Linked DNA regions of Homo sapiens: regions 2 and 3 are each linked to region 1. A link means that fine-mapping ties the variant in region 1 to the expression of a gene that starts in the linked region. Tissue or cell type: monocytes after Pam3CSK4. Region 1 holds a variant in brackets; each other region holds the start of a gene. All regions are shown on one strand. Distances are between the middles of the regions.

Evidence for each region. PIP is the estimated chance that this variant, and not a neighbour inherited with it, causes the effect.
Region 2: it holds the start of DMPK, and the variant in region 1 is fine-mapped to the expression of DMPK in monocytes after Pam3CSK4 (Quach 2016, PIP 0.95).
Region 3: it holds the start of DMWD, and the variant in region 1 is fine-mapped to the expression of DMWD in monocytes after Pam3CSK4 (Quach 2016, PIP 0.95).

The regions. Positions count from the first base shown.
Region 1 is chr19:45,745,113-45,753,060 of GRCh38, reverse strand. MEIOSIN (meiosis initiator) reads right to left here. Exons shown (of 15, transcript NM_001310124.2): 4 at 7,740-7,869; 5 at 2,275-2,386. Among named protein-coding and RNA genes, the nearest start is that of MEIOSIN, 16 kb to the right of the region's middle. RefSeq lists an enhancer at 4,692-5,484. The variant G/TG (reference allele first, on the strand shown) is at 3,688.
Region 2 is chr19:45,780,084-45,784,083 of GRCh38, reverse strand. DMPK (DM1 protein kinase) reads left to right here and starts at 1,594. Exons shown (of 15, transcript NM_004409.5): 1 at 1,594-1,891. The coding sequence starts at 1,732. DMWD (DM1 locus, WD repeat containing) reads left to right here. Exons shown (of 5, transcript NM_004943.2): 5 at 1-1,137.
Region 3 is chr19:45,791,221-45,795,220 of GRCh38, reverse strand. DMWD (DM1 locus, WD repeat containing) reads left to right here and starts at 2,376. Exons shown (of 5, transcript NM_004943.2): 1 at 2,376-2,905. The coding sequence starts at 2,465. RefSeq lists a silencer at 2,248-2,727 and enhancers at 3,876-3,925, 3,946-4,000.

The DNA of each region.
Region 1 (7,948 bases):
TCCCAGTTACTTGGGAGGCTGAGGCAGGAGAATCGCTTGAACCCAGGGGGTGGAGCTTGCAGTGATCCGAAATTTCGCCACTTCACTCCAGCCTGGGCGAAAAGAGCGAGACTCCGCCTCAGAAAAAAAAAAAAAAAAAAAGAAGAAGAAACTATCTGAGTAAGAGCTTGCAGGCATGAGAAGACACGCGCGGGGTGTCTGGGGACAGGCAAGTCATTGGGTGTGATTGGAGGTCTGCGTGGCATGGAGATGATGTGTGTGGGCTCTGAGCCAGGCCCTGACTCAGGCTCATCTCTGTGACCTTAACCTCTCTGGGCTTCAGTTCCATCACCTGCAAAACAGGACCACATTAGCTTTTCCCTTCGGTATTTGTCCTGACGATTAAATGTGAGTTAATACATAGAAACAAGTCAGGCTTGGTGGCCCACTCCTATAATCCCAGCACTTTGGGAGGCCAAGGCGGGAGAATTGCTTAAGCCCAGGGGTTTAAGACCAGCTTGGGCAACACAGTGAGACTCTGTCTCTACAAAAAAACAAACAAAAATATTAGCCAGAGCCAGGCACGATGGCTCACATCTGTCATCCCAGCACTTTAGGAGGCTGAGATGGGTGGATCACTTGAGGTGATACCAGCTTGGCGACCACGGCAAAATCCTGTCTCTACTAAAAATATAAAAATTAGCTGGGTGTGGTGGCGGGCGCCTGTAGTCCCAGCTACTTGGGAGGCTGAGGCAGGAGAATGGCTTGAACCTGGGAGGCAGAGCTTGCAGTGAGCTGAGATCACGCCACTGCACTCTAGTCTGGGCGACAGAGAGAAACTCCATCTCAAAAAAAAGAAAATTATCTGGATATTGGTGGCACGTGCCTGTAGTACAAGCTGCTTAGAAGTCTGCGGCAGGAGGATTGCTTGACCCCTGGAGTTTTGAGTCCTGGGATTTTGAGGTTACAGTGAGCCATGATCATGCCACTGCATTCCAGCCTGGGTGACAGAGTGAGACCTTGTCTCAAAAAAAAAAAAAAAAAAAAACGGCTAGGAGCAGGGGCTCACAGCTGTAATCCCAGCACTTTGGGAGGCCAAGGTGGGTGGATCACCTGAGGTCAGGAGTTTGAGACCAGCCTGGCCAATATGGTGAAACACCGTCTCTACTAAAAATACAAAAAAATTAGCTGGGTGTGGTGGTGAGTGCCTGTAATCCTACCTACTCGGGAGGCTGAGGCAGGAGAATCACTTGAACTTGGAAGGCAGAGGTTGCGGTGAGCCAAGATCACGCCACTGCACTCCAGCCTGCGCAACAAGAGCTAAACTCTGCCTCAAAAAAAAAAAAAGAAAGAAAGAAACATACCACAGCACCTGGAACATAGCAGTCCCCTAAGGCTAGATGTGCTGGGTGCTGTCGCTGTTACTGTAGTGTAAAATATACTGGCAGAGGCCCGGGAGGCAGAGGTCGCAGTGAGCAGAGATCACGCCACTGCACTCCAGCCTGGGTGACAGAGTGATACTCCGTCTCAAAAAACACACAAAAAACAAAAAACAAAACAAAACAAAAAGCACAAATAAATAAATAAAATACGCTGGCAGAATGGTAGGAGATGAGGCTGGGGAGGTTTGGCAGGGACTAGGAAGGCAGGGATGAGATCCCAAATGGTTTCCAGCACCTGGCTATGGAGGGAAGTGAAGAAGATGAAAATTACTGAGGGATTTTATGCCAGGGGAAGGTCATGATCAGATTTATTTTATTTTATGTATATATTATTATTATTATTATTATTATTATTATTATTATTATTTGAGACACAGTCTTGCTCTGTTGCCCAGGCTAGGGTGCAGTGGCGTGATCTCGGCTCACAGCAACCTCCGCCTCCCAGGTTCAAGTGATTCTCCTGCCTCAACCTCCCAAGTAGCTGGGATTACAGGCGCCAGCCACCACACCAGCTAATTTTTGTATTTTTAGTAGAGACGGGGTTTTGCCATGTTGGCCAGGCTGGTCTCGAACTCCTGACCTCAAGCGATCCGCCCGCCTCGGCCTCCCAAAGTGCCGGGAGTACAGGCATCAGCCACTGTGCCCGGCCTGTTTCTTCTGCCTGGCTGGGCTTCCCTGCATCTCCTACAGTCCTGAAGGCCCAGCTCCAAGGCCCCTCTTCTCTGAGGCATCTTGCATATCTCTCTTTGTCCCCTATACCAGGCCTTGACAGAAGGGTCACTCAGTATCCCTGATGGCTGGAACAACACTTGGAACATCACAGGCACCAGGAAACACTGGCTGAACTACTTACCCGCAAGTCCACCTTCCCCAGTGGTGATGTGGCATTTGAACAAGGCCTTGGCGGCATCGATGTTTCTCTGGAGGTACTGAATGTACTGCAGGACATGCACCAGAATCTCCTTCTGCCTCAAAAGAAAGACAGGGTTGGCCAGGCTCACGCCTGTAATCACAGCACTTTGAGAAGCCGAGGTGGGCGGATCATGAGGTCAGGAGTTCGAGACCAGCCTGGCCAGCATGGTGAAACCCCGTCTCTACTAAAAATACAAAAAATTAGCTGGGTGTGGTGGCACATGCCTGTAATGCCAGCTACTTGAGAGGCTGAGGCAGGAGAATTGCTTGAACCCGTGAGGCGGAGGTTGCAGTGAGCCAAGATCACGCCGTTGCACTCCAGCCTGGGCAACATAGCGAGACTCTGTCTCAAAAAAAAAAAAAAAAAGAAAAAGAAAAAGAAAGAAAGAAAGACAGGGTTGAGCACAACAGCCAGGGCTCAAGACAATGTGGGGCTGCTGGGGACCAGAGACACAGCCTGAAGCAAAGGTTGCAGTGAGCTGAGATCATGCCACTGCACTCCAGCCTGTAGCTGTAGCCCCTGTCTCACTGGTCTGCAGTGAGGGCTAGATAGCAGAACAAGAAGGTCTCTGCCGACTGAAGAATTGTTGGGGTGGGTGGGGAATGGGGTCCTTCCTGGAGCCTCTGTGTCTCTGGTCCCCAGCAGCCCCACGTTGTCTTGAGCCCTGGCTGTTGTGCTCAACCCTGTCTTTCTTTCTTTTTCTTTTTCTTTTTTTTTTTTTTTGAGACAGAGTCTTGCTATGTTGCCCAGGCTGGAGTGCAATGGCACGATCTCAGCTCACTGCAACTTCTGCCTGCCAGGTTCAAGCAATTCTCCTGCCTCAGCCTCCTGAGTAGCTGGGACTAGAGGTGCGTGCCACCAGGCCCAGCTAATGTTTTGTATTTTTAGTAGAGACGGGGTTTCACCATGCTGGCTAGGCTGGTCACGAACTCCTGACCTTGTGATCTGCCCGCCTTGGTCTCCCAAAGTTCTGGGATTCCAGGTGTGAGCCACCACGCCCGGCCAATAGTCTTTTTTTGTTTTTTTTTTTTGCGCTTTTTTTTTTTTTTTTTTTTGAGACAGAATCTTGTTCTGTCGCCCAGGATGGAGTGCAGTGGCGCAATCTTGGCTCACTGCAAGCTCCGCCTCCCGGGTTCATGCCATTCTCCTGCCTCAGCGAGTAGCTGGGACTACAGGCGCCCTCCACCACGCCTCGCTAATTTTTTTGTATTTTTTAGTAGAGACGGGGTTTCACCATGTTAGCCAGAATGGTCTCAATCTCCTGACTTCATGATCCGCCCACCTCAGCCTCCCAAAATGCTGGGATTACAGGCGTGAGCCACTGCGCTCGGCCTTTTTTTTTTTTTTTTTTTT[G/TG]AGACAGGGTCTCTTGCTCTGTTGGCCAGGCTGGAGTTTAGTGGTACCATCTCAGCTCACTTCAACCTCCACCTCCTAGGCTCGAGCAATCCTCCTGTCTCAGCCCCACAAGTAGCTGGGACTACAGGCGCATGCCACCATGCCCAGCTAATTTTTTGTATTTTTTATCGAGATGAGGTTTCGCCATGTTGTTCAGGCTGGTCTCAAACTCCTGGGCTCAAGTGATCCACCCGCCTTGGCCTCCCAAAGTGCTGGGATTACAGGCATGAGCCACCACACCTGGCCTCAGTCTTTTTTTTTTTTTTGAGAGGGAGTCTCGGTCTGTTGCCCAGTCTGAAGTGCAGTGGTACGATCTCAGCTCACTGCAGCCTCTGACTCCCAGGTTCAAGCGATTCTCCCACCTCAACCTCCTGAGTAGCAGGGGCTACAGGAATGTGCCACCACGCTTGGCTAATTTTTGTATTTTTAGTAGAGACAAGGTTTCACCATGTTGGCCAGGTTGGTCTCGAACTACCGACCTCAAGTGATCCACCCACCTCGGCCTCCCAAAGTGCTGGGATTACATGTGTGAGCCACTGCACCCAGCCAGCCTCAGTCTTTTTAAGCTTATTATCTCTAATACCAGGCTTGGAGCATATGGTTGGCACTCGCTAAGAAAAAGTCCTTATAAACCATGAAGTAATATATAAATGTTACTTATTATTACTAGTATAAAGGTTGTATGTAGAAAGCAATTGGGCATCATCCCAGATTTCAAGACAGATGCCTCAGTAATTGAAACTTCAGGAAGGTTAGCTTGGGGGCTACACCAGAGTCTGGACTCTCAAAGACCTTCTGAAGGTAAGATCAACAGGTCCTGTAACTGTCCCAACAAAGGGAGCTCATTCAGTCATTCAACAAACATCTATTGAACCTTGAGTGACAGAATGGTTGAAGGCAAGAGCCTTTGGAGTGAGATACATCTGACTCTATTTCTTTTAAGATGGGGTCTCATGGCCAGGCGCGGTGGCTCACGCCTGTAATCCCAGCACTTTCAGAGCCCGAGGCGGGTGGATCACGAAGTCAGGAGATCGAGGTCATCCTGGCTAACACGGTGAAACCCTGTCTTTACTAAAAATACAAAAACTAATTGGCCGGGCGTGGTGGCGGGCACCTGTAGTCCCAGCCACTCAGGAGGCTGAGGCAGGAGAATGGCGTGAACCCAGGAGGCAGAGCTTGCAGTGAGCCGAGATGGTGCCACTGCACTCCAGCCTGGGGTACAGAGCGGGACTCCGTCTCAAAAAAAAAAAAAAGACAGGGTCTTACTCTGTTGCTCAGGCTGGAGTGCAGTGGTATGATCTCGACTCATTGCAACCTCCACTTCCCAGGCTCAAGCTATCCTCCTGCTTCAGCCTCCTGGGTAGCGGGGACCATGGCTGGCTAATTTTTGTATTTTTTGTAGAGATGGACTTTCGTCACATTGCCCAGGCTGGTCTCGAACTCCTAATCTCAAGCAATCTGCCTGCTTCAGCCTCCCAAAGTGCTGGTATTACAGGTGTGAGCCACTGTGCCTGGCCACATCTGAATCCCTCCCTCTCTCTTTCTCTCTGTCTCTCTTTCTATCTCAACTCTGTGCCTGTGGGCGATGTGACCATTCTCTGCACTTCAGTTTCCTCAGACCAAAGAATGAGCATAGCCATACATCTCTCACAAGCCTTGTGGGAGAGTTAAATGAGAAAAATGTATCTAAGACACTTAGCACTCAAGGTCTGACACCTGGAACGCTCAGTAAGTTGGGAACGGTTGTTACTGCTGTCTGCTGTCTGCTCTCTGCTCTTGCTAGGCCCTGTGGGCAAGGCGGACAGAGATGTCTCCTTTATGGCTCTGGCAGAACTCCACCTGAAGGAGGTCGGAAACAAGGAAGTAATTGCAGTGATACGCTGGGGGTGTTCATGGTCAGAGGGAGAACCTACATGATCAGACGGGGCAGGGGGCAATTCACCAGCCAGAGTGGTGAGGAAGGACACTCTGAATCAAAGCTGCACCCCAAGTCTCTAACACAGGAGAGGCAATTCTCACAGCTCCTGCTATGGCGCGGAGCACTGGACTGAGCATGTCCCACGGCCCCGGGATGCGGGTTGTCTGTGGAGCAGGACCCCATGATGCAGCTGAGGGAAGGATGAAGAGGTGGGAGAAGAGGGGTTCTGAAGACAGCAGAGGACACATGGTAAATAAGTAGGCTGAGGCCTGGGGAGAATTCCAAGAGATGTGGCCATCCGGTCATTTATGAAACGTTGCCAGTCCCCTGACAAGACTGCCATTCCTCGAGGGGAGGGACTGTGTCATAGTCATCTCTGGCTCCCCAAGGGCTATTCCAGCACCTATGCATGCCAAAAACTCACATTCCTCAAATATTTTTAGCACCATCGTGGACTGTATAATGCATCCCCCCAAAGTTCCAAAGATGTCCATGTCCTAGTCCCCAGAACCTATGAATATGTTGCCTTGTATGGCAGAAAGAAAGGACTTTGCAGATATGATTGAGTTAAGGATCTTTTTTTTTTTTTTTCTTTTGAGACAGAGTCTTGCTCTGTTGCCTAGGCTGGGGTGCAATGGCGCGATCTCGGATCACTGCAACCTCTGCCTCCCAGGTTCAAGCAAATCTCCCGCCTCAGCCTCCTGAGTAGCTGGGATTATAGGCACGCGCCACCACTCCTGGCTAATTGGTTGTATTTTTAGTAGAGACGGGGTTTCACCATGTTGGCCAGGCTGGTCTCAAACTCCTGACCTCAGGTGATCCACCCACCTCGGCCTCCCAAACTACTGAGCCCGCTGTGTTAAGGATCTTGAGATGGCCTGATTATTCCTGTTTATCTGGGTGGGCCCAGTGTAATCACATATAATCTTACAGAGGTAGGAATGTCAAAGGCAGGGAAGGCAATGTGACAACAGAAGCGGTAGGACAGGAAAGACATTTGAAGATGCTTCCATGCTGGCTTTGAGGGACCATGATGGGTCAAGGAATGCAGGCAGCCCCCAGAAGTTGGCAAAAAGAAAGGAAACAAACTCTCTAGAGCTTCTAAGAGGAACCAACCCTGCTGACAACTTGACTTTAAACCAGTGAGACTGGCTGGGTGCAGTGGCTTATGCCTGTAATCCCCGAACTTTGGGAGGCCAAGGTGGGAGGATCACTTGAGGTCAGGAGTTTGAGACTAGCCTGGGCAACATGGTAAAACCTCGTCTCTACCAAAACTACAAAAAATTAGCCAGGTGTGGCATGAGCCTGTAGTCTCAGCTACTCGGGAGGCTGAGGTGGGAGGATTGCTTGAGCCTGGGAAGCAGAGGCTGCAGTGAGCTGAGGTCGAGCCACTACACTGTAGCCTGGGTGAGACAGTGAGATCCTGTCTCAAAAACAAAACAAAACAAAACAAAACCTAAAAACCCCAAAACAACCAAACAAGTGAAAAAGCCACTGAGACTGATATTGGACTTCTGAACTCCAGAACCATAAGAGAATAAATTTGGCTGGCCACAGTGGCTAACGCCTGTAATCCCAGCACTTTCGGAGGCCAAGGCGGATGGATCGCCTGAGGTCAGGAATTTGAGACCGGCCTGACCAATATGGTGAAACCCTGTCTCTACTAAAAATACAAAAAAACTATTAGCCGGGTGTGGTGGCCTGTGCCTGTAGTCCCAGCTACTCAGGACTCTCAAAAACAAAAAAGAACAAAGAAAAAAAGAAAGTCTGGGTAGCCTGAGAAACTGCCCAGAGTTCTGTAGCTGTGAAGCTAGAGGGCTCAAACCCATGGCTATTTGATTCCTGGAACAATGATCTTTGTGCTATCTCTATTTCCCCAGCCCGGTTTCTCCTCTCTCCTTTGCAAAAAAGGATCCTCCAGGCACCTAGTTATGGGATCACAGACTCCCGGAAATTCCCGTTCAGAGTAGCACCATTCCCATTTGAATGCTGCCACTGAAAGGATCTGTCCAGGTTTCCCAGGAGAGGGTGACCCATTTGCTGCTATTTAAAGACCTGCGTCCCAAATCTGGCCCCTCTCCTCTAGTCCCTGTACCTTTGTGAGCTTCTTGGTCCCCGTCTTCAGGGCTATGGGCAGCAGCAGTGCCAACTCTTGCAGCTTGCTAGTGTGGTTTTTCCTCTGCTTCTTGTTTGGGGACAGGAGCTTGTTTTGGTTCCTCTGATTCCTGTTTGGGGACAGGAGCTGGTTTTGGTTAGGACATCCAAAACGAATTCCACATCCAACCCGCAAACCTCCTGTCTGTG
Region 2 (4,000 bases), 33 kb before region 1:
CCCGGACACGGGCGATGTAATAGCCCTTGTGGCCTCAGCCTTGTCCCCCACCCACTGCCAAGTACAATGACCTCTTCCTCTGAAACATCAGTGTTACCCTCATCCCTGTCCCCAGCATGTGACTGGTCACTCCTGGGGAGAGACTCCCCGCCCCTGCCACAAGAGCCCCAGGTCTGCAGTGTGCCCCTCAGTTGAGTGGGCAGGGCCGGGGGTGGTCCAGCCCTCGCCCGGCCCCCACCCCAGCTGCCCTTGCTATTGTCTGTGCTTTTGAAGAGTGTTAAATTATGGAAGCCCCTCAGGTTCCTCCCTGTCCCGCAGGACCTCTTATTTATACTAAAGTTCCCTGTTTTCTCAGCGGGTCTGTCCCCTTCGGAGGAGATGATGTAGAGGACCTGTGTGTGTACTCTGTGGTTCTAGGCAGTCCGCTTTCCCCAGAGGAGGAGTGCAGGCCTGCTCCCAGCCCAGCGCCTCCCACCCCTTTTCATAGCAGGAAAAGCCGGAGCCCAGGGAGGGAACGGACCTGCGAGTCACACAACTGGTGACCCACACCAGCGGCTGGAGCAGGACCCTCTTGGGGAGAAGAGCATCCTGCCCGCAGCCAGGGCCCCTCATCAAAGTCCTCGGTGTTTTTTAAATTATCAGAACTGCCCAGGACCACGTTTCCCAGGCCCTGCCCAGCTGGGACTCCTCGGTCCTTGCCTCCTAGTTTCTCAGGCCTGGCCCTCTCAAGGCCCAGGCACCCCAGGCCGGTTGGAGGCCCCGACTTCCACTCTGGAGAACCGTCCACCCTGGAAAGAAGAGCTCAGATTCCTCTTGGCTCTCGGAGCCGCAGGGAGTGTGTCTTCCCGCGCCACCCTCCACCCCCCGAAATGTTTCTGTTTCTAATCCCAGCCTGGGCAGGAATGTGGCTCCCCGGCCAGGGGCCAAGGAGCTATTTTGGGGTCTCGTTTGCCCAGGGAGGGCTTGGCTCCACCACTTTCCTCCCCCAGCCTTTGGGCAGCAGGTCACCCCTGTTCAGGCTCTGAGGGTGCCCCCTCCTGGTCCTGTCCTCACCACCCCTTCCCCACCTCCTGGGAAAAAAAAAAAAAAAAAAAAAAAAAGCTGGTATAAAGCAGAGAGCCTGAGGGCTAAATTTAACTGTCCGAGTCGGAATCCATCTCTGAGTCACCCAAGAAGCTGCCCTGGCCTCCCGTCCCCTTCCCAGGCCTCAACCCCTTTCTCCCACCCAGCCCCAACCCCCAGCCCTCACCCCCTAGCCCCCAGTTCTGGAGCTTGTCGGGAGCAAGGGGGTGGTTGCTACTGGGTCACTCAGCCTCAATTGGCCCTGTTTCAGCAATGGGCAGGTTCTTCTTGAAATTCATCACACCTGTGGCTTCCTCTGTGCTCTACCTTTTTATTGGGGTGACAGTGTGACAGCTGAGATTCTCCATGCATTCCCCCTACTCTAGCACTGAAGGGTTCTGAAGGGCCCTGGAAGGAGGGAGCTTGGGGGGCTGGCTTGTGAGGGGTTAAGGCTGGGAGGCGGGAGGGGGGCTGGACCAAGGGGTGGGGAGAAGGGGAGGAGGCCTCGGCCGGCCGCAGAGAGAAGTGGCCAGAGAGGCCCAGGGGACAGCCAGGGACAGGCAGACATGCAGCCAGGGCTCCAGGGCCTGGACAGGGGCTGCCAGGCCCTGTGACAGGAGGACCCCGAGCCCCCGGCCCGGGGAGGGGCCATGGTGCTGCCTGTCCAACATGTCAGCCGAGGTGCGGCTGAGGCGGCTCCAGCAGCTGGTGTTGGACCCGGGCTTCCTGGGGCTGGAGCCCCTGCTCGACCTTCTCCTGGGCGTCCACCAGGAGCTGGGCGCCTCCGAACTGGCCCAGGACAAGTACGTGGCCGACTTCTTGCAGTGGGGTGAGTGCCTACCCTCGGGGCTCCTGCAGATGGGGTGGGGGTGGGGCAGGAGACAGGTCTGGGCACAGAGGCCTGGCTGTTGGGGGGGCAGGATGGCAGGATGGGCATGGGGAGATCCTCCCATCCTGGGGCTCAGAGTGTGGACCTGGGCCCTGGGGCAACATTTCTCTGTCCTATGCCACCACTCTGGAGGGGCAGAGTAAGGTCAGCAGAGGCTAGGGTGGCTGTGACTCAGAGCCATGGCTTAGGAGTCACAGCAGGCTAGGCTGCCAACAGCCTCCCATGGCCTCTCTGCACCCCGCCTCAGGGTCAGGGTCAGGGTCATGCTGGGAGCTCCCTCTCCTAGGACCCTCCCCCCAAAAGTGGGCTCTATGGCCCTCTCCCCTGGTTTCCTGTGGCCTGGGGCAAGCCAGGAGGGCCAGCATGGGGCAGCTGCCAGGGGCGCAGCCGACAGGCAGGTGTTCGGCGCCAGCCTCTCCAGCTGCCCCAACAGGTGCCCAGGCACTGGGAGGGCGGTGACTCACGCGGGCCCTGTGGGAGAACCAGCTTTGCAGACAGGCGCCACCAGTGCCCCCTCCTCTGCGATCCAGGAGGGACAACTTTGGGTTCTTCTGGGTGTGTCTCCTTCTTTTGTAGGTTCTGCACCCACCCCCACCCCCAGCCCCAAAGTCTCGGTTCCTATGAGCCGTGTGGGTCAGCCACCATTCCCGCCACCCCGGGTCCCTGCGTCCTTTAGTTCTCCTGGCCCAGGGCCTCCAACCTTCCAGCTGTCCCACAAAACCCCTTCTTGCAAGGGCTTTCCAGGGCCTGGGGCCAGGGCTGGAAGGAGGATGCTTCCGCTTCTGCCAGCTGCCTTGTCTGCCCACCTCCTCCCCAAGCCCAGGACTCGGGCTCACTGGTCACTGGTTTCTTTCATTCCCAGCACCCTGCCCCTCTGGCCCTCATATGTCTGGCCCTCAGTGACTGGTGTTTGGTTTTTGGCCTGTGTGTAACAAACTGTGTGTGACACTTGTTTCCTGTTTCTCCGCCTTCCCCTGCTTCCTCTTGTGTCCATCTCTTTCTGACCCAGGCCTGGTTCCTTTCCCTCCTCCTCCCATTTCACAGATGGGAAGGTGGAGGCCAAGAAGGGCCAGGCCATTCAGCCTCTGGAAAAACCTTCTCCCAACCTCCCACAGCCCCTAATGACTCTCCTGGCCTCCCTTTAGTAGAGGATGAAGTTGGGTTGGCAGGGTAAACTGAGACCGGGTGGGGTAGGGGTCTGGCGCTCCCGGGAGGAGCACTCCTTTTGTGGCCCGAGCTGCATCTCGCGGCCCCTCCCCTGCCAGGCCTGGGGCGGGGGAGGGGGCCAGGGTTCCTGCTGCCTTAAAAGGGCTCAATGTCTTGGCTCTCTCCTCCCTCCCCCGTCCTCAGCCCTGGCTGGTTCGTCCCTGCTGGCCCACTCTCCCGGAACCCCCCGGAACCCCTCTCTTTCCTCCAGAACCCACTGTCTCCTCTCCTTCCCTCCCCTCCCATACCCATCCCTCTCTCCATCCTGCCTCCACTTCTTCCACCCCCGGGAGTCCAGGCCTCCCTGTCCCCACAGTCCCTGAGCCACAAGCCTCCACCCCAGCTGGTCCCCCACCCAGGCTGCCCAGTTTAACATTCCTAGTCATAGGACCTTGACTTCTGAGAGGCCTGATTGTCATCTGTAAATAAGGGGTAGGACTAAAGCACTCCTCCTGGAGGACTGAGAGATGGGCTGGACCGGAGCACTTGAGTCTGGGATATGTGACCATGCTACCTTTGTCTCCCTGTCCTGTTCCTTCCCCCAGCCCCAAATCCAGGGTTTTCCAAAGTGTGGTTCAAGAACCACCTGCATCTGAATCTAGAGGTACTGGATACAACCCCACGTCTGGGCCGTTACCCAGGACATTCTACATGAGAACGTGGGGGTGGGGCCCTGGCTGCACCTGAACTGTCACCTGGAGTCAGGGTGGAAGGTGGAAGAACTGGGTCTTATTTCCTTCTCCCCTTGTTCTTTAGGGTCTGTCCTTCTGCAGACTCCGTTACCCCACCCTAACCATCCTGCACACCCTTGGAGCCCTCTGGGCCAATGCCCTGTCCCGCAAA
Region 3 (4,000 bases), 44 kb before region 1:
ACCAGCCCCACCTGTTTTATTTATTCATTTACCTAGCCATCAAACCATTATTGAAATACCTCCTGTCAGCCCACCCCTGTGCTGGGGACACAGACAGCTGCAGTCCTGCCTTCCTGGACCTCACAACACTATAGGGAGAGAGACTCATTTCCAGACAGTGACAGCCCAAATGGGGAAGCCCAGAGGACTGACAGAGCTCCCGAGCCAACTCTTAAAGGGTCAAGAAAAGAATGGGGAAAGGCATTCCAAGAATAGGGAACAGAATGTGCAAAGACCCAAGGACAAGAGAGAGTGTGATATGTTGGGGTAGTTTTTCAAGCCTCATTTTAGGTGGTGGATAGTGTGAGGAGTTAGTGGTGAGATATGAGATTGAAAAGAGGTTGGCAGGGGCCAGATCACTTGGGGCTTAACTTTCCCCTGAGAGCACTAGGGAGCTACAGATGGGTTTTGAGCAGGGGAGGGCCCTGATCATATTCATGCTTTAGAAAGACCTCTCTAGGCCTAGTGCAGTGGGTCACACATGTAATCCCAGCACTTAGGGAGGCCAAGGTTGGCGGATCACCTGAGGTCAGGAGTTTGAGACCAGCATGCCCAACATGGTGAAACCCCGTCTCTACTAAAACTACAAAAAAGTAGCTGGGTGTGGTGGCAGGTGCCTGTAATCCCAGCCACTCAGGAGGCTAAGGCAGGAGAATCACTTGAACCCAGGAGGCAGAGGTTGCAGTGAGCCAAAATCGTCCCATTGCACTCCAGCCCACGTGACAAGAGCGAGACTCTGTCTCAAAAAAAAAAAAAAAAAAAAAAAAAGCCGGGTGCAGTGGCTCATGCCTGTACTCCCAGCACTTTGGGAGGCCGAGGTGGGTGGATCACCTGAGGTCAGGAGTTCGAGACCAGACTGGCCAACATGGTGAAACCCCGTCTCTGAGCCGAGATGGAGCCATTGCACTCCAGCCTGGGTGACAGGGTGAGACTGTCTCAAAAAAAACAAAAACAAAAACAAAATAAAACCTCTCTACATGCCAAGTGAAAGGTGGAAGTGGGGGTGAGACAGAAATCTGGGAGACCAAGAGACACGGTTGATGTGGGGGTGGGGGAAGGGCTTGGGTAGAGGAGAAGCTTGGATCAGGGAGAACAAGGAACTGAGAAAGAGGAATTCCACGTGGTCGAATGCAAAAGACTTGGAGGCTGTAAGCGGGGGCAGAGTGAAGATAAATGGTACACATCTAGGAAGACACCCAGGTCTGTGGCCTGGTTGACTGAGTGGACGGCAGAGCTAGCCCTAAGGTGGGGATGCAAGAGAGGTGGAGGATTTGGTGTAAGACGTCAATTTCATTGTAGGATTCTTTTTTCTTTCTTTTTTTTTTTTTTTTAGAGAGACTGAGTCTGACTCTGTCCCCCAGGCTTTAGTGCAGTGATGTGAATTCATAGCAGTCTTGATCTCCTGGGCTCAAACGATCCTCCCACCTCAGCCTCCCAAAGTGCTGGGATTCTCGGATTCCAGGCATGAGCCACCATGCCCGAACCATTGTAGGATTTTTTTTTTTAAGTGTGAGATGCCCTTGGGACACTCTAGGGAGAAATCGTAGAGGCCATTGACTACATGAGACTAGAAAGATCTATGATGGGGCTGGGTGGCTTCAGCAGACATGGGGAGCACTGGCTATGAGTAGGAGCTGTTGGGATCAGGGGGAGACTTTGGGTTACGAGTGGATCACTGGGACACTGGGGCACCGTGGGGATCAATACAATTTGGGAATCAGAGGTAGGTTTTGGAGGACAAGTGAGGTTGTTGAAAATAAGAAAATCATGGAAATATACATTGGAGGTTGGTGGAAAATATGAAGGATGTTTGGAGTTAGCATTAATCAATAGTGGGTCAGAGGAAGTCCTCTGAGTTGTGTGGGGACACAGGGATTTGGTGGGTCACCAAGGGTGGGGAAGAATGGTAGCAGATGCTGTGGTCATTCAGGGATTTGAATATGTCAGTGGGAAACACTGGAGGTCAGGGGAGTGTATATTGGGCGTCTAAGGAGAGACCAGGGTCACTTGGGGTTGGCTGTGACTTCATGGGAAGGCTGGACTATGGATGAGGGCTTCTTTGTCGTGGGGGAAAAAAAAAAAAAAATCCCTCCGTTGCTAGGCAAACGTTCCCAGGGCGCGGTTGCTAAGGACTTGAGCTTTCTAACTGGCCACGCCTCTTTCCATTGCGGGCTCCGCCCCCGCAGCCAACCACAAGTCGGTCACAGGCTCAAAGGCCGCGCCCACCTTCTCGCCCCGCCCACAGTCCCAGCACCGTTACCCGAGCGACCGCGGGGATTCGTCCCGCCTCCGGATCTGGGTGCCAATCGAAGAGGCGTTGCCCGGGCGACGACCCCACCTTTTCCGGCGCGGGCCAGCGGCTTCCGGGAGGGGGCCCGGCTGCGGGCGGCAGTCCGGCAGTGGCGGGGCCCGGGGGGCGCCCAAGATGGCGGCGGGCGGCGCGGAGGGCGGCTCGGGCCCCGGCGCCGCCATGGGGGACTGCGCGGAGATTAAGTCGCAATTCCGCACGCGCGAGGGTTTCTACAAGCTACTCCCGGGCGACGGCGCCGCTCGCAGGTCGGGTCCGGCTTCCGCCCAGACTCCGGTGCCGCCTCAGCCACCGCAGCCCCCGCCCGGCCCTGCCTCCGCCTCCGGTCCCGGCGCTGCAGGCCCCGCGTCGTCCCCGCCGCCCGCAGGCCCCGGACCCGGGCCCGCCCTGCCCGCCGTGCGCCTCAGCCTCGTGCGCCTCGGGGAGCCGGACAGCGCCGGGGCCGGGGAGCCGCCCGCCACGCCCGCGGGGCTGGGCTCGGGGGGAGACCGCGTCTGCTTCAACTTGGGCCGTGAGCTCTATTTCTACCCAGGCTGCTGTCGTCGTGGGAGCCAACGGGTGAGCGGCCTGCATCGTGGGGCCCTGGGTGCTGAAAGGATGGAGGTTCCAGAGAACTGATAGGAGGGTCCCCGAATTGATATGGGGCCCTGAGATAGGCATTCTAAATGTGATGGACGTTGTAGGGCGACAGCATTGGAGGGAGTACAGGATTCTGAAATGTGATGAGAGGCCCGCGGGGTGCTGGGCAGGCATCTTGGAGGTGATGGGGGAAATCCCCTTTACCCCCGTTATGCGTAGGAGTTCTGGGATGGTGACTATTGGACATGATGGGGTATCTGAGATGAGGTGGGATCCCCCGGGTTCTGGGGTGGCAGGCATTCTGCAGGTAATGGGGAATCATGAGGTGATGCAAGCCCAGAGGTGATGGAGAACCCAGTATTGCAGCCTGGAGGTGTGGGAGAGGGGTCTTGAGATTGAGCCCAGGAATGAGGAGAAGTCTAGAAGTGATGGGGGCCTTGAAGGTGATAGGGGATCCAGAAGCTGAATGGGATTCTAGAGAAAATTGGGGTCTGGAAGTCATGAGGGTCCTGGAGGAGATGAGCGTCCGGAAGCTGATGGGAGCTCTCAAGGGAATGAGAGGCCCTGGCAGGGGAATCTGCAGGTGTGATTCAGGACATCTCTAAAGCGATGTGGTGAGAACCCTGGCCGTTTATGGTGATCCCAGAAATGATGGGGATCCTTCGGAGCCCCTAGGTAATAAATGGGCCTAAAATGTGGGAGACCGTGAGGTTTGACGGGTCCCAGAACTGTGGCGGTTTAGGGACTACAAAGTGAAGAGAATGCTAGGATGTTAGGCTTTAGAGTCCTGGAAATTTGGGTGACCTCAAGGTTTGGGGGTCTTGGAATAGTGTGGTACTAGGTCCCAAGGGAGTTGCTGAGGTTATAGGATGGAGTGGTGAGGCTAAAAGGAATCGGAGCTTAGGAACTGTGTGGACCCAGAACCCTGATTATGTGGACAAGGGTGTCTCTGAATTAGAGGTGACCCAACTTTGGGGAGGCACTGTGGTCAAGGGGGATCCTTACCATCTTTTTTGCTACTCTTGTCTGTGATTTGGGTCCCCTTCCCGTCTGTGGTTGCCCCGTCCTTCGCAA